Homo sapiens: one gene and its partners. The protein of the gene in region 3 interacts with the protein of the main gene of each other region in a pairwise test. Each region holds a gene or a part of one and is shown on either strand. Other genes may lie near its edges.

Region 1 (7,025 bases), on a different chromosome or scaffold from region 3:
GACAGTTTCACTCTTGTCGCCCAGGCTGGAGTGTAGTGGCGTGGTCTTGGCTCACTGCAACCTCTGTCTCCCAGGTTCAAGTGATTTTCCTGTCTCAGCCTTCTGAGTAGCTGGGATTACAGGTGCACACCACCACGCCCAGCTAATTTTTTGTATTTTTTTAGTAGAGATGGGGTTTCACCATGTTGGCCAGGCTGGTCTTGAACTCCTGACCTCGTGATCCGCCTGCCTCGGCCTCCCAAAGTGCTGGGATTACAGGCGTGAGCCACCGTGCGCAGCCCCTTGCTGGATATTTTCATCCGTGTGGAAGGGGATAAAGCGTGCCCCATGGTCACACCACCCCCTCCCGTGGCCTGGCGTCCCCACCTTCGTCCTGACCTCTTCTGTCTCGTGGTCCCCAGGCTCCTGTGCTGCTGTGCCCCTCAGGGTCCTCCTGCCTCCCGAGCCTCCCTGCTCCACATGGCCCCTGCCCAGCCCTCTCCATCCCTCTTGAAGGTAGTTCCACAGCCAGACACCCTCCCGCCCCCCGCTGGCCTCTCCTCTAGGGCTTGCTACCCACCCCCATCCCCTGCTTCCACTGCCACCCGATGTGTCCACGATGCCCCAGGCCACCTCCCCACCTCTGTGGCCCCTGAGCCTGCACGGAGGAAAGGGTATCCTCTGGGCAAGGCACAGCCACCCGCCAGGTCCTCCCTCTCACCACATCCAGGACAGTGGACGCTGCTCCCTGCCTCTTCCTCAGAGTCCTGGGGTCACACCTCTACCTGCGCGGCTCTCGGGGGCCACCCCTCTCAGCCCCATCCGGCTCCTGAGCAGCTTTGTCCCCAGAGGGCCCCGGGTCATTCCTCTGACCAACCAGGCACGGCGCACCCTGCATGCAAGCCTGGGCGGGTGCTGGGGACGGACGAGTGACGCAGCAGACACTGCCTCCCTGAAGGCATGGCAAGGTGGGACGCTTGGCCGCCACCTGCAGGGGCCTCACCTGACCAGTCCCCAGCCTCAGGAGGCGGACCCCAGCAGCTGGAGCCCCAGCAGAGTTGGGGGGATGGTGGCATCTGTGTCCTGGGCTCCGGGGCCACCTCACTGTGAGGAGGAGGTGTGGGCGTTGTGGGAGGTCTCATCTCGGGGCCATGCTGATCTGGGCTCTGAGAGCTGGTGTCCGCTGCTCCTCCCCTCCCATTTCTCAACAGGAGGCCCCGAGTTCCTGAAGACGCCCCTGGGGGGCAGCTTCCTGGTGTACGAGTCCTTCCTCTACCGGCGGGAGAAGGCGGCCGGGGAGAAGGTGTATTGGACCTGCCGGGACCAGGCCCGCATGGGCTGCCGCAGCCGCGCCATCACCCAGGGCCGGCGGGTCATGGTCATGCGCAGGCACTGCCACCCACCGGACCTGGGCGGCCTGGAGGCCCTGCGGCAGCGGGAGCACTTCCCCAACCTGGCGCAGTGGGACAGCCCAGGTGCGTGTGGAGGGTGCTGGGCTGGGTCTGCCTGGTCTCCCAGGACCTGTGCCCCACACGCTGGCTGGAGGCTGCCCGTGGGGTGTTGTGTGTTGTGCATGGTGGTCTGACAGCCGGGGCCATAAACTCCCCAGGGGCAGGAGGCTCCATCTGCGGGCTCCGAGCTCCTGCAGCTGGTCCTCTGGGTAGTGGGGACTGGCTGTCGGAGGTAGAAACCCACTCAGCTCTCTAGAGGAAGAGGATGGTGGCCAGGGGTGGCATTGGCAGCCACAGAGAGTGCTTGGCATCTGCTGACGGGCCGTACGGTGGATCCTGGACACTCTTGGTCTACCCCCACGCCACCCACACTGCTTCTAGTCTCACGGGGTTCTCTCTGGCCACCCCAACATCATGTGACCTTTTAGTTCAGCTTGTTAAAAGTCAGCTGCCAGCTGGCTGAGGGGTAGGTGGACAGGGAGCCAGGAGGCCCTGGTGCCCAGCCCAGAAAGGCTCAGCCCCTGCCCTGGGGGATGCACCTGCAAGCATGAGGTCTGAGGGGTTGGGAGAGTCCTTCAGGAGCATTCAGGGTCCAGTGCTTGCCAGGCCACGTGCCCAGTCATCCCCAGAGCCCTTGGAAAGGGCCAGCCAGCGTGGGAGTCTGGGCTGCAGGGCCCAGAGGGGAGGAGGGCAGGGACCACCGTGCAGCGTGCTAGGGGATCGCAGATTCCTGGTGGGGCCTGGCTGGGGGATACAAATCAGACCCCCAGCCCTGCCACCCAGGCCCCTGTGGCCCCACTCACAGTGTCACTTTCCCTTTCAGATCCTCTCCGGCCCCTGGAGTTCCTGAGGACTTCCCTGGGGGGCAGGTTCCTGGTGCACGAGTCCTTCCTCTACAGGAAGGAGAAGGCGGCTGGGGAGAAGGTGTACTGGATGTGCCGGGACCAGGCTCGGCTGGGCTGCCGCAGCCGCGCCATAACCCAGGGCCACCGCATCATGGTCATGCGCAGCCACTGCCATCAGCCTGACCTGGCAGGCCTGGAGGCCTTGAGGCAACGGGAGCGGCTCCCCACCACGGCCCAGCAGGAGGACCCAGGTACAGGCAGGCTGTGGGGCAGAGGCAGGGCTGTGGGCATCCTCATCTCTTCCAGCTCAGAACTGATGCCCCAGGCCAGGCACCCACTGAGCAGACTGCTTTTGTGCACACACAAATTATTCATATAAACAGAATGTGAAACCAGTCTTTGTTTTTTTTTTTTTTTTTTTTTTTGAGACTGAGTCTTGCTCTGTTGCCCAGGCTGGAGTGCACTGGCGCGATCTCGGCTCACTGCAAGCTCCGCCTCCCGGGTTCACACCATTCTCCTGCCTCAGCCTCCCGAGTAGCTGGGACTACAGGTGCCTGCCACCAAGCCCAGCTAATTTTTTGTATTTTTAGTAGAGACGGGGTTTCACCATGTTAGCCAGGATGGTCTTGATCTTCTGACCTCGTGATCCGCCTGTCTTGGCCTCCCAAAGTGCTAGGATTACAGGCGTGAGTCACTGTGCCCAACCTTTTTTTTTTCTTGAGTCAGAGTTTTGCTCTTGTTGCCCAGGCTGGAGTGCAATGGAGCCATCTTGGCTCACTGCAACCTCTGCCTCCTGGGTTCAAGTGATTCTCCTGCCTCAGCCTCCCGAGTAACTGGGATTACAGGTGTGCACCACCACACCCGGCCAAAACCAATCTTTAGAAAGCATTGTGTGTCTCACTGTCATTCATGTGAATATTAAGGGCCATGTCCTGTATAACAGTAACAAATCCAAGTTGGCCAGGCACAGTGGCTCACGCCTGTAATCCCAGCACTTTGGGAGGCTGAGGCAGGCGGATCACCTGAGGTCAGGAGTTCGAGACCATCCTGATCAACATGGAGAAACCCCGTCTCTACTAAAAATACAAAATTAGCTGGACATGGTGACGCATGCCTGTAATCCCAGCTACGCTGTAATCCCAGCTGCTTGGGAGGCAGGAGAATCACTTGAACCTGGGAGGCGGAGGTTGCAGTGAGCCAAGATCGCGCCACTGCCCTCCAGCCTGGGCAACAAGAGTGAAACTCCATCTCAAAAAAAGAGAAGAAAAGAAAACAGCCTGGCCAACATGGTGAAACCTTGAAAGAAAACAGCCTGGCCAACATGGTGAAACCCTGTCTCTAAAAAAAAAGTTTATAAATCAGCTGGGCACAGTGGTGCACGCTTGTGGTCTGAGCTCCTCAGAAAAGGGGAGGATCACTCTAGCCCGGGAGGTTGAGGCTGCAGTGAGCCATGCACTGCAGTCCAGCCTGGGTGACAGAACAAGACCCTGTCTTTACAAGAAATTTTTTTGAGAAAAGGATTTCTTTGAGAAAGCCACTATCGAGCTTACAGAGAAAGTTGTGCTGGAGGCCTGGCCTTTCATCTTTGATGTCTAGTTGACCCCCACTATTTTCCATGACAGCAGCTGAAGGTCAACTCTTAGGAGCTCAAGTAGCTGCTGTTACCTGGGAAGGTAATTGATGCGTTGAATTCCCAGCGTTGCTTCACCCGGTTGTCTTTCTCCTCACAGCCTTGAGGGCGTCGTTAACAAGGTGTGTGTCCTTGGTTCTGTCAGCTTCAACAAGAGAAGAATTATTAATTCATATTTTCAATTATTTTTCCACAGAAAAGATTCAAGTTCAGCTGTGCTTCAAGACGTGTTCTCCTGAAAGCCAGCAGATTTATGGGTAATTGTATTTGTTATCTAATGGTGCATGACCAATTACAACAAAACGTAGTGGGCTTAAAACAACAAATATTTGCTGTCTCAGCTTTTGTGGGTCAACATTATGGGAGTGGTTGGGCTGGGTGGTTCTGACTCCTGAGGTTGAAGAGAATTTGTCAGCCAGGGTGGCAGTCATCTGAAGGCCCAAGTGAGGCTGGAGGCCCTGCTCCTCACCATAGGGACCCCTCCTTGGGCCCACTTGAGCATCCTTCACATGACAGCCATGGGACAGAGAGAGAACAAGAGGGAAGCTGCCAGCAGCAGAATTCAGGTTCTTCTCAACCACAGCCAGGCCATAAAGCAAGAGTCCATTATTTTATTTTTTGAGATGGAGTCTGTGTGTGGCCCAGGCTGGAGTACAGCGGCATGATCTCAGCTCACTGCAAACTCTACCTTCCGGGTTCAAGCAATTCTCCTGTCTCAGCCCCCTGAGTAGCTGGGATTACAGGCATGTACCACCACACCGAGCTGATTTTTGTATTTGCAGTAGAGATAGGGTTTTATCATGGTGGCCAGGCTGAGTCTCAAACTTCTGACCTCAAATGATCCTCCTGTCTCGGGTCTCCCGAGTGCTGGGATTACAGGCAAGAGCCACTGTGCCCAGCCTTGTTATTGGTTTGTAATTACATCCCACTATGGTCAAAGAACATACTTTGTATCATTTCAGTCCTTTCACGGCTGGATACAGTGGCTCATACCTGTAATTCCAGCACTTTGGGAGGCCAAGGCAGGCAGATCATTTGTAATTCCAGCACTTTGGGAGGCCAAGGCAGGCAGATCATTTGAGGTCAGGAGTTCGAGACCAGCCTGGCCAACATGGTGAAACCCCATCTCTACTAAAAATACAAAAATTAGTCAGGCATGGTGGTACATGCATGTAATCCAAGCTATTCGGGAGGCAGAGGTTGCAGTGAGCCAAGATTGTGCCACTGCACTCCAGCCTAGGTGACAAACAAAAACCAAATCAAAAACAGAGAAATTTGGGAAACTCAGAAATACGTAGAAATTAAAGAACACACTTATAAGAAACCAGTGAGTCAGACTGGGCATGGTGGCTCACGCCTGTAATCTCAACACTCTGGGAGGCAGAGGCAGGAGGATCACTTGAGCCCAGGAGTTTGAAACCAGTTGGGGCAACAGAGCATGACCCTGTGTGTAATTTAAAACAAACAAAACAATGAGCCAAAGAAGATAATTATAAAATACTTTGAAATAAAACTTATGGGATGCACTGAAAGCCGTGCTTAGAGGGAAATCTATAGCTAAAAACACTTCTATTAAAAAGGAAGAAGCCTGGGCAACATGGTGAGACCTCGTCTCTGCCAAAAACTCAGCCAGTCATGGTAGCATGTGCTGGTAGTATCGCTTGAACCTGGGAGATTGAGGCTGCAGTGAAGCATGATTGTACCACTGCACTCCAGCCTGGGAGACAGAGCAAGATCCCATCTCTAAATGAATAAACAGGGCCAAGCATGGTGGCTCACACCTGTAATCCTAGCATTTTGGGTGGCTAGGGTGGGAGGATCGCTTGAGCCCAGGAGTTCCATACTAGCATGGGCAAGACCTCATCTCCACAAAAAATAGAAAAACTAAAAAAAAAAGAACTAAAAGTCTGGGCGTGGTGGCTCACACCTGTAATCCCAGCACACTGGGAGACCGAGGGAGGTAGATCACGAGACCACGGGTTCAAGACCAGCCTGACCAACATGGTGAAACCCCATCTCTACTAAAGATAGAAAAATTAGCCAGGCGTGGTGGTGGGAGCCTGTAGCAGGAGAATTGCTTGAACCCAGGAGGTGGAGGTTGCAGTGAGTCGAGATTGCGCCACTGCACTCCAGCCTGGGCGACAGAGCAAGACTCATCTCAAAAAAAAAAAAAAAAAAAAAAAAAAAACTGAAGCAGAAGGAAGGAAATAAATAATAAATGAAACCAAAAGTTGGTTCTGTATAAGGATCAATAAAATTGACAAATATTTAGCTCTATCTACAGATCAAAAAAATTGAAAAGCAAGAATACTGAAAATACTAAAATCAGGAATAAAGATGAGACCTTACTATGGACCTCATTCTGGCAGAGTCTCATTCTGACACCCAGGCTGGAGTGCAGTGGTGCCATCTCAGCTCACTTGAACCTCACCCTCCTGAGTAGCTGGGACTACATGCACGCACCACCACGCCTGGCTAATTTTTCTATTTTTAGTAGAAACGGGGTTTTCCCATGTTGTCCAGGCTGGTCTCCAACTCCTGGGCTCAATCAGTCCACCTGCCTTGGCCTCCCAAAGTGCTGGCATTACAAGCATGAGCCGCAATGCTTGGCCCCAGCTCATTCTCTAAGACCAGTATCACCCTGATATCAAAACCAAGCAAAGGAATCACAAAGAGAAAACTACAGACCAGTATTTCTTAGGAACGTAGAATACCAGCAAACAGAATCCAGCAACATAAAAAAGGATTATATACCATGACCAAGTAAGATTTATCCCAGGAATGCATCAACATGCAAAACCAATTAATGTAACACAGCAGGCCTGAGACTGCTGCCCTAAGAACAGCCTGTGTGCAAGGTTCACCCTTGGCTGGCATCTGGGAACTTTTTTTTTTTTTTTTTTTTTTTTGAGACGGAGTCTCACTCTGTCGCCCAGGCTGGAGTGCAGTGGTGTGATCTTGGCTCACTGCAAGATCACTGTGAGTGATCCCAGGTAGCTGGGATTAGAAGTGCGCACCACCACGCTCAGCTAATTTTTGTATTTTTAGTGGAGACGGGGTTTCGCTATGTTGGCTAGGCTGGTCACGAACTCCCGACCTCAAGTGATCCACCCGCCTCGG
Region 2 (7,025 bases), on a different chromosome or scaffold from region 3:
TTTTTTTTTTGAGACAGTCTCCCTCTGTTGCTCAGGCTGGAGTGCAGTGGTATGATCTCAGCTCACTGCAGTCTCTCCCTCCAGGGTTCAAGTGATTCTCGTGCCTCAGCCTCCTAAGTAGCTGGAATTACAGACGTGAGCCACCATGCCCACTAATTTTTTGTATTTTTAGTAGAGATGGGGTTTCACCATGTTGGCCAGGCTGGTCTCAAACTCCTGACCTCCGGTGATCTGCCCGCCTCAGCCTCCCAAAGTGCTGGGATTACAGGCATGAGCCACCACAACCGGCCCCCATCAATATTTTTTAAAATCATTTTTATTACTTCAAAGAAGTAGATATGAATCCTTTTTTGCTTTTGCCTTTTACAAATTTTATTGTGACTATTTTAAAACACACGCCAATGAACTCCCACTTACCTGTCACCCATATTCAACATTTATCAAAATTTTGCCACATTTGACTCACATCTCTCGTATTTTTCTTGTAAAAATATTTTAAGCCCAGATATCATATTATTTCACTTACATATTTTATTGTGCATCTGAAAAAATATGAACATATTCTTACATAGTCACATTGCCGTGACTGCACCTAACAAAATTAATAACTATCATTTGGCATCATGTAATTAACAACTCCATAACAAAATTTTCCTGATTGTCTCTAAAATGTATTTTTACAGTTGATTTTGAGAATAAGGATCCAACACACATTGCATTCAGTTGTGTTTTCTCTTTTTGTCTATTTTAAACTGGTGCAGTCTTCCCTTCTTTTTTCCCTGCCATTTACTTGTTGCAGAAACTGGATCAGTTATGCAGCAGAAATGTCCAACGTTCCGAATTTGTCAATTACTTCCTTCTCATATCATTTAACTTGTTCCTTTATTCTCTGTAAACTGAATTTGGCTCTAGAGGCTTGATTATAGCCAAGTTCAACTCTTTAGGGATGCTTATGTCTTAGATGGTACTGCAGTCAGTTCACAGAAATCAAACTTTTGAGCTGTTCAAGAATAATAATTTTAACTCCTATAAGGCCCATCACTTACCACCTTTCTAACCTATTGGAGCTTGGAGCTCTTTCCTCCATGTTTGGAACTGTTTTTAATATAAAGTCCGTGTTTTCATAAAAACATTAGTTTAAGTGAAGTACCCAGGCTAGGCAAACAAAAGATTGATTTAATCCATGCAAATATTGTGTAATTGTGATAAAAACAAGAAAAATATCTTGTCACTATTAATAATTAATATGACAACAAAATATCATGAGAAATCATTTAGAAATTATTTTGGATGTCAATAATGTAAAAAAAACCATGTAGAGGATGAGAAAATACTGAGGAATTTCGCAGCAATTCTGAGAGTTACTTTAGAGCACTTTTAAGAGTTTCATAGGATTTTTATTGATTTCTAATTTAATTTTAAAGTGAAATTTTGGCTGGACGTGGTGGCTCACACCCTGTGATCCCAGCACCTGGGAGGCCGAGGCAGGTGGATCACTTAAGGTCAGGGGTTTGAGACCAGCCTGACCAACATGGTGAAGCCCCATCTCTACTAAAAATACAAAAATTAGCTGGGAGTGGTGGCATACCCGTGTAATCCCAGCTACTCAAGAGGCTGAGGCATGAGAATTGCTTGAACTCAGAAGGCAGAGGTTGCAGTGAGCCAAGATTGCACCATGGCACTCCAGCCTGGGCAACAGAGTGATACTCTGTCTCAAATAAATAAATAAATAAATAAATAAATAAATAAATAAATAAATAAATAAAATTTTGCTTTCTCTTGGCATAGGCATAACACTACTCTTTTTTTTTTCTTTTGAGGGAGGGTCTCACTCTGTCACCCAGGCTAGAGTGCAGTGGCACGATTATGGCTTACTGCAGCCTTGACCTCCCTGGGCTCAGGTGATCCTCCCACCTCAGCCTCCCAAGTGGCTGGGACTATAGGTGTGTACCATCACTCCTGGTTAATTTTTGTATTTTTGTAGAGATGAGGTTTCACCATATTGCCCAGGCTGGTCTTGAACTCCTGGGCTCAAGAGATCTGCCCACTTCGGCCTCCCAAAGTGCTGGGATTGCAGGCATGAGCCACCGCACCCAGCCAACACTATTCTTTTATTTGTCATTTATAACTACAGTTATTTTAATTTTCATTTTAAAAAATTTCCACTGATGCTTCATTATTCTATGTGATGATTCACAGTATATATCTAGCTGGTATACTCGACCACTTAACTAATGTGATCACTCATCAAGTCTTATTTTTCTATCAAATTTTGATATATTTCCTTTTAAAATACATTTTTGATGCTAATTTTTTATCCTACATATTTGAAATCCAATTTAACAAATTGAGTGCCAATTAAGTACTAAAAACTTGTCCATTAGCATTGGAGGATACAAAAATATACATGAAAAAAATGTTCTCTTTTCTAGAAGCTTATAATCTATTGGATAACCAGAACATAATAGGGTTGATTTGCTCAGTCTGAATATCCATCACAGCATAGTGTGGCATCCAAAGGAAACACAAATCCAATTCCAAAAACCCTGAGAAATAACAGGAAATTACCTCACATAACACTACACAAAACTCAGCCATATGTTTTGTTTTGTTTTCCCACTCATTTCTCTTCTTTTTGAGTATCATAGTTAGAGCATAAGTTACTTCCTACATTGCAGATGGATCTTGGAATTTATTTAGCTTTCAATTAATAAAGGAATTGAAATTCTTTTTGAAAAAACTATCGGTGGATCCAACTTTTAAAACCTTTTTAAAAAGTTGATATATAACATACTCTATTAAGTACATTAATTTGTCTTTAGCTTGATAACATTTTACAAAGTGAGCACCTTTATGTATGCACTTTTAGATTAAGATACTGAATATTTTTATCACTCTAAAAAGTTCCTGTATGTCCTTTCCCAGTCAATCCTCCCACAATCAGATGCTGTTCTGATTTCTATAATTCATGTTTTCGATAACTGTGAGTTTTAATCTAATAGGGCAAGCTAACCATCTGTACTTTTAAAACATTTATCTGCTGGCTATTCTTCCACAGAAGTTTTACTACCAATTTGCTAAGTTCTGTAATGACATAGTGAGGAGATTTTATAAATAATGTTTGTTTGTTTTTTTGAGACAGAGTCTTGCTCTGTTGCCCAGGCTGGAGTGCAGTGGCACGATCTCAGCTCACTGCAGTCTCTGCCTCCTGGATTCAAGCGATTCTCCTGCCTTAGCCTCTCGAGTAGCTGAGATTTCAGGTGTGCGCCACCACGCCCAGCTTATTTTTGTATTTTTAGTAGAGATGGGGTTTTGCCATGTTGGCCAGGCTGGTCTCGAACTCCTGAGCTCAAGTGATCCACCAGCCTTCACCTCCCAAAGTGCTGGGTTACAGGTGTGAGCCACCGCACCTGCCTAGAAAATGTTATTTTTGTATTACAAAGATTTTACTATAAAAACCTTATAAACAAAATTAGGAAGAAAATTTAAAACTACTTTAGAGCATGGTTATATATTTTTAAAACATCTGTTTACATACAAATGACATTAATTTGTTTACCCAGTTCCAGGTCCTATGCAATTTTAAAGTTTAAAACTTGGGCTGAATGCGGTGGCACACACCTATAATCCTAGCATTTTGGAAGGAAGAGGTGGGAGGATTGCTTGAGCCCAGGAGTTTGAGACCAGCCTGGGCAACACAGAGAGAGTTCATCTCTACAAAAAATTCTAAAAATCAGCCGAGTGTGGTGGTGCACACCTGTGATCCTAGCTACTTAGAAGGCTAAGCCAGAGGATAGCTTGGGCCTGGGAGGTCGAGGCTGCAGTGAGCTGTGATCACACTACTGCACTCCAGCCTGGCCAACAGAGCAAGGCCCTATCTCGAAGGAAAAAAAAATACTTAAAAATTACATTTCTTTAAAAATACATTCTTTAATTCAGATTTTTCTTCATTAATTCCTACTTGGCTCAAATTAAATATAGTTAAGAAATAGTTAATATAAGACATAAAATTAAAAAGGCACTATAACAGATAATCTAATTTAACCTATTTTTTCAGATGGGAATACTCAGGGTTCAGGTAAGTTAAGTGACTTGCTGAAGGCCACACAGCCTTGTAAGAAGGATGGAAGCTTCTGCCTGCTCCCTGTTTATATGGGGTATTTATGTGCCTTACATCCAGATTACTGACTAAATAAAAGTATTAATATATTTAGTCAGCCATCATATACCTACTAGAAAGTCTGCTCATGTAAACCAGAAATATTACAGAACTCTACCTTACAAAGGAGTGATCACAGCATGAAATTTCTGTTAGAAATACATTAGAATTGGAAATACTCTCTAGGAAATGGCCAAAAAACGATATGATGAATGAAACTGTAAGTGGTCGGAGAAGCACATAAATGTATATGTAATTTTGAAATGTATTGCTCCATTAGCCAGCATTTCAGACCCACTTATTCATCTTATTTTTTGCTCTGTGAAACTGTCATACTAATAGTTATGTCTCAGATTCAATTATTTTAAAAATAGAAAATGACTTCACACTGAATTGCCAGTGGTTTCCTGTTTGAAGAAATAATAAAATAGTCCTACTGCAAATGCAGTTTAAGTCCCAGCACTATAATCCACAAGACAACTCTTTTAGATTTTTAAAAACTAATTCATGACAAAAGCTTACACATTTTAATGGTACTGAAACATTGGGTTGACTAAACTGCATTTTATTTGTCTATTTTTATTTTTACCTGCCTTTTATTCTGTTGTCATAGCATGCAGTTTGCCCTGAATCAAAATTTGTTCTATTACTTTAAGATATATTGTAGACAATATACATATGTCCTTACCATGATTCTTCAGTCTACTCAAAAATAATAAATTAAAAGCTAAGATAGTTGGAAATGATCTTCTGATAGAATATAATGGGCCATTTATTGAAAACAAAATTGCCAAACATCTAGTTAGCTTAATTATATCCAGTTGCAGTGATTTATTTGATAAGGACATTAGATATTAGGCGTTGCTATCATAATAGCAAAAGTGGGAGACCTTATTCATTGTCCTCCATCAAACACTGTTCTTTTCATAAGACATATTATTACATTTACAAAACTATAAGTGTTACATGAAAGCCTTATCTATAGGTGACAGCAACTCCAAATCAATCCTACCTTAAATTGTTGGTCACCTAACTCAACACAGTGTAATTTGCAGAAAAAAAAAAATCAGTTGCTGCTATCCCTTTGAAAAGCACCTGAACCAACCCCTTAGAAGAGGACTTCTAAGGAAAAGCTTTGTCTTAACTTCAAGTTTTTTGGTTTTGTTTTATATATGCATAAATATAAATATATAAATATAAATATATGTATATAAATAATTACTGCATAAGCTAAGATGGAAGGGAGGAGGATTTATTTGCCTTTCCATGGCTTTATTTAATTTTCCAAAGTTGATCCTTTGTAGGTTATGTTAATATCACTTCTTAATTTTTTTATTTTTTATTTTTTAGCACAAACACATTTATTTATTAACCAAAGGGATGATCCTAATTAATCTGATACTGAAACAGCTGCATGTAAAATGTTTGTGATAAAGATAATTGAACACAGTAATGAAAAAAAAGAAGCAGTATGGAGATTTGCCCATTGAACTGAGCTTGTTGATTTTCATAGCTATTTCCTGTCCAAAGTGATGATGAAATTTTTATTCTACTTTTTTATAGATCTGAGAACAGGTGACATTGTTCATGACACAGTCTACCATGAATTTCCCATCTTTCAATTTTCTTGTTATTGTGCTTTTCTTCCCATCCCACTCCTGATGCTGAACCAATGATCCATCTGTAAAGTTGTAGAGAGTCTGAGTTTTTTTGCTATGAGCTGTAGTTTCTTCAAACTTCTCTCCCAGGGTACGAGAAAACTGTGCTGTTTTCTAAGTGCTCTGAGTTTTTATGGTGAGGTTTTTGTCATCACAAATGATGATACACTCTGGCTTGGCCATTGTGCCCATTTTTCACAAAGCTATTCCCACTCCTAGTTCCTTCACGTATTCATCAAGGCCTTTGCTGTCCACTAGGCATCATCTTCCATCTGCTGAACAGTGGTCATGGTGGGCATAGGAGGGTGTGTGGAGCAAGCTTAGCAAGGTCGGCATGGGCAGCGCACTGTGAATATCACTTCTTTAAATCAGGATGAAATGCTCTTGATTAAGCAAAAAGAAGTTTCTGTTGTTGAAACAGGATGTGAAAAAATTATTAAATGCAAGATGAGTTGATTGTTTACTGTGTGCCAGGCCCTGTGCTACCTACTAGGAAATAGGTGTAAGCATGAAGATCCTGCTTCAAGAAGCAAAAACTGTAAACTTAGACACCAATGTCGGCTTTCCCCTTAACTCTTTTGAACTCAGTTTTTAAAAAATCTGTAATTTGGGGGATATAAGGTTTTTATAAGGTTTTCTATCATGGTTTAATGAAATGAAAGCACCTGTAAATAATATGAATTTAATAATTTTTTTAAACTGTTTTTTTCTCTTGAGAAGTTGATTATCTGGGGGAGATTGGTGCTGGGGAAAGGACACAAAACCATCTTAAAATTCTTTTTTTTTCTTAATAAGCCAACCAAGTACACCTTATTTCCCAAAGTCTGAAGCCATAAGCAGGTTTTTAAAATACAGGAAGAAATAATCTAAGATTATTTAAGCAAATGGTTTTAAAACTTTAATGTGGAAATTATTCTCCTGGAGAGGCTTGTTAAAATGCAGATTTTGGGGTGGGTGTGCTGGCTCACTCCTGTAATCCCAGCAGTTTGGGAGGCCGAGGTGGGGGGATCACTTGAGCTCAGTAGCTCGAGACCAGCCTGGCTAACATGGTGAAACCTCGTCTCTGCTAAAAATATAAAAATTAGCCAGGTGTGGTGGTTCACGTCTGTAATCCCAGCTACTTGGAAGGCTGAAGCAGGAGAATTGCTTGAACCCAGGGGATAGAGGTTGCAGTGAGCCAAGATCATGCCACTGCACTCCAGCCTGTG
Region 3 (7,025 bases):
CAACAAGTCTCTAGAAAGTTCCAATCTTTCCCACATTTTCCTGTCTTCTTCTGAGCCCTCCAAACTGTCCCAATCTCTGCCTGTTACCCAGTTTCAAAGTAGCTTCCACATTTTTGGGTATCTTTTCAGCAATGCCCCACTCTACTGGTACCAAATTACTGTATTAGTCCATTTTTATGCTCCTGATAAAGACATACCCAAGACTGGGAAGAAAAAGAGGTTTAATTGGACTTACAGTTCCACATGGCTGGGGAGGTCTCAGAATCATGGTGGGAGGCGAAAGGCACTTATAACATGGCAGCAGCAAGAGAAAATGAGAGAGATGCAAAAGCAGAACCCCTGATAAAATCAACAGATCTCTTGAGACTTATTCACTACCATGAGAACAGTATGGGGAAAACCACCCCCATGATTCAGATTATCTCCCACCGGGTCCTCTCACAACATGTGGTAATTATGAGAGTACAATTCAAAATGAGATTTGGGTGGGGACACAGAGCCAAACCGTATCAGATGGTTTCCACTTTTTGACTGATGAATAGTACTGTTCTGAACACTTTCTTTGTGTGGAAAATTCATCCATTAATTCCCACATTCATTGGAAAAGAGCCAAACCAAGATCTCCTGACTTTTGAACTATCAGACTCTCCATAAAAGGTGGTCACTGTGAAATTCTTATGTCAATTCATCTTAATTTTCCATTGCCTTAAAATAAAAGAGAACTTCATGATGTACATAGGAGTGATTACAAATTTAATTTATACTGATGCTAGTTTTATTTTTCTTAGGCAATACTGGGCAAAGCCACAAGTCATACGCAGGCAGTGCTTCAAAAAACTATGGAACAAAACAGATCCTTGGAGAAGGTATTTGGTGCTTTTAGTGTAGACTTATTGAATCCAATAAGCTGTTAAATATAATTTCCCTAAACTCACCATACTAATGGATCTGTCACTTGTGCCTACCTTCTGCTAGGTGTGCTTCAGTTCTGATGGTCTTCCCTTTTGGAGTTTACAATCTAAAACAGATTGTCATGTGCACAATGAATTCAGGTTATTTTTATTTCCCCATGTTAAGGTAGTAGGAGGCCTGCCAAATTGGTACTTCTCATTTCTTCTTCTTTTTTTTTTTTTTTGAGATGGAGTCCTGCTCTGTCGCCCAGGCTGGAGTGCAGTGGCGCGATCTCTACTCACTGCGAGCTCTGCCTCCCGGGTTCACGCCATTCTCCTGCCTCAGGCTCCCAAGTAGCTGGGATTACAGGTGCCCGCCACCACGCCCAGCCAATTTTTTGTATTTTTAGTAGAGACAGGATTTCACCATGTTAACCAGAATGGTCTCGATCTCCTGACCTTGTAATCCACCCACCTTGGCCTCCCAAAGTGCTGGGATTACAGGCGTGAGACACCGTGCCCAGCCCATTTTTCTTCTTAAAAAAAATTTTTTTTTTTAAATCCTTATCGTTGCCTGGCAGGACGTACGTCTTTCTGACCATCTCATCTTCACTATAAAGGTAGTTAGGAATCATCCTAGATGGTCATGTCTCCTGTGCTTGGTGTGTTCTCCCTTGATGGGACCATTGAGTTAAGATTTCCAGGAGTGGATTTTGCTTGAGGTCTCTACATGCAGCGGAGGTGGGCACTGAGAAATCTAGGTGTAGCAGCCCAGCAAATTTTGAAGGCAAACAATTTGAAATTTTTTCTATATTAAGTGAGTTTTGGCAGAGTTGTTTTGAATGCTAAAGAGGCATGTTATATGTGTTTGCAAATGTCAGAGATACTTTTAGAGCAATAATTAATTTTTTCTCTTTAAACCATTTCTGAGAACTGATTATATGATTTATTTCAGCTATTCACAATGTCCTGAAATGATTTATTTGTAGTAATTTGCCATGAAGGTACTATTTTCTTTCCATAGGAAATAAATGCCTTGCAGTGGGAAATAGAATTTGATCATAATAGATTTAAAAATATAGAGGAATCTTGGATCCAAAAATATGACAGGTTTGTATATTACTCCATTATTTTTCTTTGACAACCTTTAAAATCTATGTAATTCAAAAGTAATTTATGCTTTCTTCTTTGAGCCAAGTGCAAAATATTACAAAATTTTTATTGCTTATCCACTTACTAGTCGCATATTTTTGTTAGTGTTAATTTTCCTTAAAGAAAAAAAATAGCATAGGCTGGGTGTGGTGTCTCACACCTTTAATCCCAGCACTTTTGGGAATCTTTGGCACTTGGATCTGAGGATCACTTGAGTCCAGGAATTTGAGACCAGCCTGGGCAACATGTTGAAACCCTATCTCTACAAAAATACAAAAAGTAACTGGGTGTGGTGGCTTGCACCTGTAGCCCCAGCTACATGGGAAGCTGAGGTGTGAAGATCACTTGGGCCTGGGAGTTGGAGGCTGCAGTGAGCCATGATTGCGCCACTGCACTTCAGCCTGGATGATAGAGTGAGTCCGTGTCTCAAAAATAAAACAAAACAAAAAAACAAAAACCAAAATAGTATAAACTCTATCTTAAAATACAGTGTAAGAATTATTTTAGAATTGGAACTATTTGTTTTTTTCAAACAAAATCTTTTGAGGGGCTGGGCATGATGGCTCACACCTGTAATTTCAGCACTTTGGGAGCCTGAGGTGGGAGGACTGCTTTGGTTCAGGAGTTCAAAACCAGCCTAGATGACATAGCAAGATCCTCATCTTGTTAAAAAAAAAAAAGATGAAAAATAAGATGGTTAAGATGGTAAATGTTTATGTTCTGACAATCAGCTCCAAAAAGAGAAAAAATATCTTTGGAACAACTTTTATTTGTGTGAGTTTATTTAATAACTTTAAATTATACACTTACTATAAAGTCAGTCATTTCAGTTGGGTATGGTGGCTCACACAATCCTATCGTGGCCCCAATCCCTGTTGGACTGAACAAAGGGAGACGAACGTGGGAATAAAAATAAAGACAAAAGAGTATATTTGGAAGAAGGGGTCAGGGGGCTCCTTGCTCCAGTGAACAAGGGTCCTGAGCTTTTAGCACCCTTCGTATTTATTGAGTAAAGGAGATAGGGAGGAGGTGGTTGTCAGTCAGCTGCTTGACTCGGTGCAGGCTTGCACAACTGCATTCTCTGAACAGTAGTCTCCAGATGTTCCAGTAGATAACCTCAAGGAGCACGGCGCCAGAGAGTGACTGCCCTCAGCAAACCTTCTGGCGGCAGGTGCAGATGTGAGTTTGCCTACATCCTGCATTCATGATAAACAGTTTGCTGTTTGATCATATAGCCTCAGTGGAATGCTAAGTTGGTCACGATCCTCTGGCTTTCGGCTCTCTACATAATCCCAGCATTTTGGGAGGCTGAGGCAGGTGGATCACTTGAGGCCAGGAGTTCTAGACCAACCTGGCTAATGTGGCGAAACCCTGTCTCTACCAAAAATACAAAAATTAACTGGGCGTGGTGGCACACACCTGTATCCCAGCTACTCAGGAGACTGAGGCAGGAGAATCGCTTGAACCCAGGAGGTAGAGGCTACAGGGACCTGAGACTGGGCCACTGTACTCTAGCTTTGATGACAGAGCGAGACCTTGTATCCAAAAAGAAAAAAAAACCAGAAAGACTGAATAATATTCCATGTTATGTATGTACGCCATTTTGTTTATCCATTCATTCCTGATGGACACTTGAGTTAACTCTACCTTTTGGCTATTTTGCATGATGCTGCTATGAACATGGGTGTACCCTATGTATCTTTTTTTTCCATGAAATACTTTGTTGGTTTTTTTTTTTTTAGAGCAGTTGTAGATTCACAACAAAATTGATCAGAAGGTACGGAGATTTCCCATATACACAGCCTCCCCCACTGACAACATCCCCCACCAGAGTGGTACATTTTTTATAACCAATGTTGATACATCATTATTACCCGAAGTCCATAGTTTACATGAGGACCTGTGTATGTAAGTTTCTGAAGGTGACCTAAGCATATAGTTGAAATTCAAATGGTTATTAAGTAAAGAGAATGAGTATGCAAAATGGATGGTTTAAAAATATTTCTGGTTCTGATTATGTCTCAGCTAAGAAGGGTTAAGAGTATGTTTAGTCCAGGCGCAGTGGCTCACGCCTGTAATCCCAGCACTTTGGGAGGCCGAGGTGGGCAGATCACTTGAAGTCAGGAGTTTGAGATCAGCCCAGCCAACATGATGAAACCACTTCTCTACTAAAACACAAAAATTGGCCGGGCGTGGTGGCGGGCGCCTGTAATCCTAGCTACTCAGGAGGCTGAGGCAGGAGAATCACTTGAACCTGGGAGGCGGAGGTTGCACTGAGTCGAGATCACATGACTGCACTCCAGCCTAGGTAACAGAGCAAGACTCCGTCTCAAAAAGAAAAAAAAAAAAAAAGGGTATGTTTAAAATCCTGGCCGGGCATGATGGCTCACAACTGTAATCCCAGCACTTTGGGAGGCTGAGGCGGGCTGATCACTTGAGGTCAGGAGTTCGAGACCAGCCTGGCCAACATGGTGAAATCCCGTTTCTACTAAAAATACAAAAATTAGCCAAGTGTGGTGGCAGACACCTGTAATCCCAGCTACTTGGAAGGCTGAGGCAGGAGAATCACTTGAACCCAAGAGGTGGAGGTTGCAGTGAGCTGAGATTGTGCCACTGCACTTCAGCCTGGGCGACAGAGTGAGACTCCATTTCAAAAAAAAAAAAAAAAATTCTTACCACATTCCTTTAAATTGTTTTTATTTTTGTGATACGTGTAAATTCCAGACTATTTTGAAGTAGGAAAAACTATATTTAGATTTTTGTGTTCCAATTATGGCAATAAAAATATTCTCGCTCAGCAAGGAAATATTAATGTTTTAGTTATTTGAAAGCCACTTTTTTCCAGGCTAAACTGTGAAAATGCAGTCCTCAAAGAGAATTTGAAAGTGAAAACAGAAGAAATTAAAATGCTGAAGTCTGACAATGCAGGTAATGATGATTTTTGTATTAAGAGCACATGTATCAATAAAGATAACATGCTAGTATTTTGAAATAATATACATTAAGTATAATAGAGGGGAGAAATGTATCATTTAGGTTTTTTAAATTTAAGAAAATTTATCAAGGTGAAATTCACATAACATAAAACTATTTAAAAGTGAACAATTCCTGGCTGGGCACAGTAGCTCATTCTTGTAATCCCAGCACTTTGGGAGGCCAAGGTGGGCAGATCATCTGAGGTCAGGAGTTCAAGACCAGCCTGGCCAACATAATGAAACTCCATTTCTACCAAAAATACAAAAATTAGCGAGACATGGTGGTGCGCACCTGTAGTCCCAGCTACTCAGGAGGCTGAGGCAGGTGAATCGCTTTTACTCTGGAGGCCGAGGTTGCAGTGACCCAAGATTGTGCCTCTGCACTCCAGCCTGGACAACAGAGTGAGACTCCATCTCAAAAAAAAAAAAAAAAAAAAAGTGAACAATTCTTGCCAGGCACAGTGACTCATGCCTGTAATCCCAGAACTTTGGGAGGCCAAGGCAGGAGGATCACTTGAGCTTAGGAGTTTGAGACCAGCCTGGGCAACATAGCAAAACCTTGTTTCTATTAGAAACAAACAAACAAACAACAACAACAACAGAAAAACCAAAATTAGCCAGATGTGGTGGCACTGGCCTGTAGTCCCAGCTACTTGGGAGGTTGAAGTGGGAGGATTGCTGGAGCCCAGGAGGTTGAGGCTGCAGTGAGCCATGATTGTGCCACTGCACTGCAGCTTGGGTGACAGAGCGAAACTCGGTCTCGAAAAAATAAGTTAACAATTCAGTGGCATTCACAAAGTTGCCTAACCACCACCTCTGTCTAGTTCCAGACAGTTCCAGTACTCCAAAGTAAAATCTCCTACCTATTAAGCAATTTCTCCCCATTTTCTCCTTTTTATTTAGTTTTCACTTAAAGCAAAATGGTAGAGCACCTGATATTTGAAGAACCTAAGTAGAAATGATATATATGTGTGTATATAATTTATATGTTATATATCTCTTATATAATGGTCTACCTTACGATGAAAGTTGATGCAAGGATAATAAGATATTTAATGTTAACTTTTTTTTTTTTTGAGACAGAGTCTCACTTTATCGCCAGGCTGGAGTGCAGTGGTGCAATCTTAGCTCACTGCAACCTCCGCCTCCTGGGTTTAAGCAATTCTTCTGCCTCAGCCTCCTGAGTAGCTGGGACTACAGGTGCATGCCACCACACCCAGCTAATTTTTGTATTTTTAGTAGAGACAGGGGTTTCACCATGTTGGCCAGGATGGTCTCAATCTCCTGACCTCGTGATCCGCCCGCCTCAGCCTCCCAAAGTGCTGGGATTACAGGTGTGAGCCACCGCGACTGGCCTTTTTTTTTTTTTTTTTTTTTTTGAGATGGAGTCTCACTCTGTTGCCCAGGCTGGAGTGCTGTGACGCCATCTTGGCTTACTGCAACCTCCACCTCCCAGTTCAGGTGATCCTCCTGCCTCAGCCTCCCAAGAAGCTGGGACTACAGGTGCCTGCCACCACACCTGGCTAATTTTTGTATTTTTAGTAGAGGCAGGGTTTCACCATGTTGACCAGGCTGGTCTCAAACTCCTGACCTCAAATGATCCACCCACCTTGGCCTCCCAAAGTGCTGGGATTACAGGTGTGAATCACCATGTCCAAACTGATGTTAACTTTTTACATATTTTATTTATTTATTTGTTTATTTATTTATTTATTTTCACACAGGGTCTTGCTCTGTTGCCCAGTTTGGAGTGCAGTGACACAATCTCAGTTCACTGCAACCTCCACTTTCTGGGCTCAAGAGATCCTCCCACCTCAGCCTCCCAAGTTGTTGGTACTACAGGCATGTTCCACCATGTCCAGCTAATTAAAAAATATATTATTATTATTATTATTATTATTTTGAGACAGAATCTCACTCTGTCGCCCAGGCTGGAGTGCAGTGGCACAATCTTGGCTCACTGTGACCTCTGCCTCCCAGGTTCAAGTGATTCTCCTGCCTCCACTTC

What was found. Proteins that work in one complex are often made in the same cells at the same time.
Region 1: the proteins of CCDC125 (region 3) and FLYWCH1 interact in binary tests that used the Homo sapiens proteins (3 or more experiments, as listed by UniProt).
Region 2: the proteins of CCDC125 (region 3) and SPMIP2 interact in binary tests that used the Homo sapiens proteins (3 or more experiments, as listed by UniProt).

What each region holds. Positions count from the first base shown.
Region 1 is NC_000016.10:2,935,931-2,942,955, forward strand, and holds part of FLYWCH1 (FLYWCH-type zinc finger-containing protein 1), read left to right. Parts: exon of another isoform or gene 1-327; coding exon of another isoform or gene 328-495; intron 496-709; coding exon of another isoform or gene 710-1,190; coding exon 1,191-1,454; intron 1,455-2,253; coding exon 2,254-2,526; intron 2,527-2,532; exon of another isoform or gene 2,533-4,050; intron 4,051-4,101; coding exon 4,102-4,162; coding exon of another isoform or gene 4,163-4,166; exon of another isoform or gene 4,167-4,231; intron 4,232-7,025. UniProt on the Homo sapiens protein: Transcription cofactor. Negatively regulates transcription activation by catenin beta-1 CTNNB1, perhaps acting by competing with TCF4 for CTNNB1 binding. May play a role in DNA-damage response signaling.
Region 2 is NC_000004.12:159,025,205-159,032,229, reverse strand, and holds part of SPMIP2 (protein SPMIP2), read left to right. Parts: intron 1-5,505; exon of another isoform or gene 5,506-6,167; intron 6,168-7,025.
Region 3 is NC_000005.10:69,301,792-69,308,816, reverse strand, and holds part of CCDC125 (coiled-coil domain-containing protein 125), read left to right. Parts: intron 1-788; coding exon 789-866; intron 867-1,914; coding exon 1,915-2,000; intron 2,001-4,887; coding exon 4,888-4,970; intron 4,971-7,025. UniProt on the Homo sapiens protein: May be involved in the regulation of cell migration.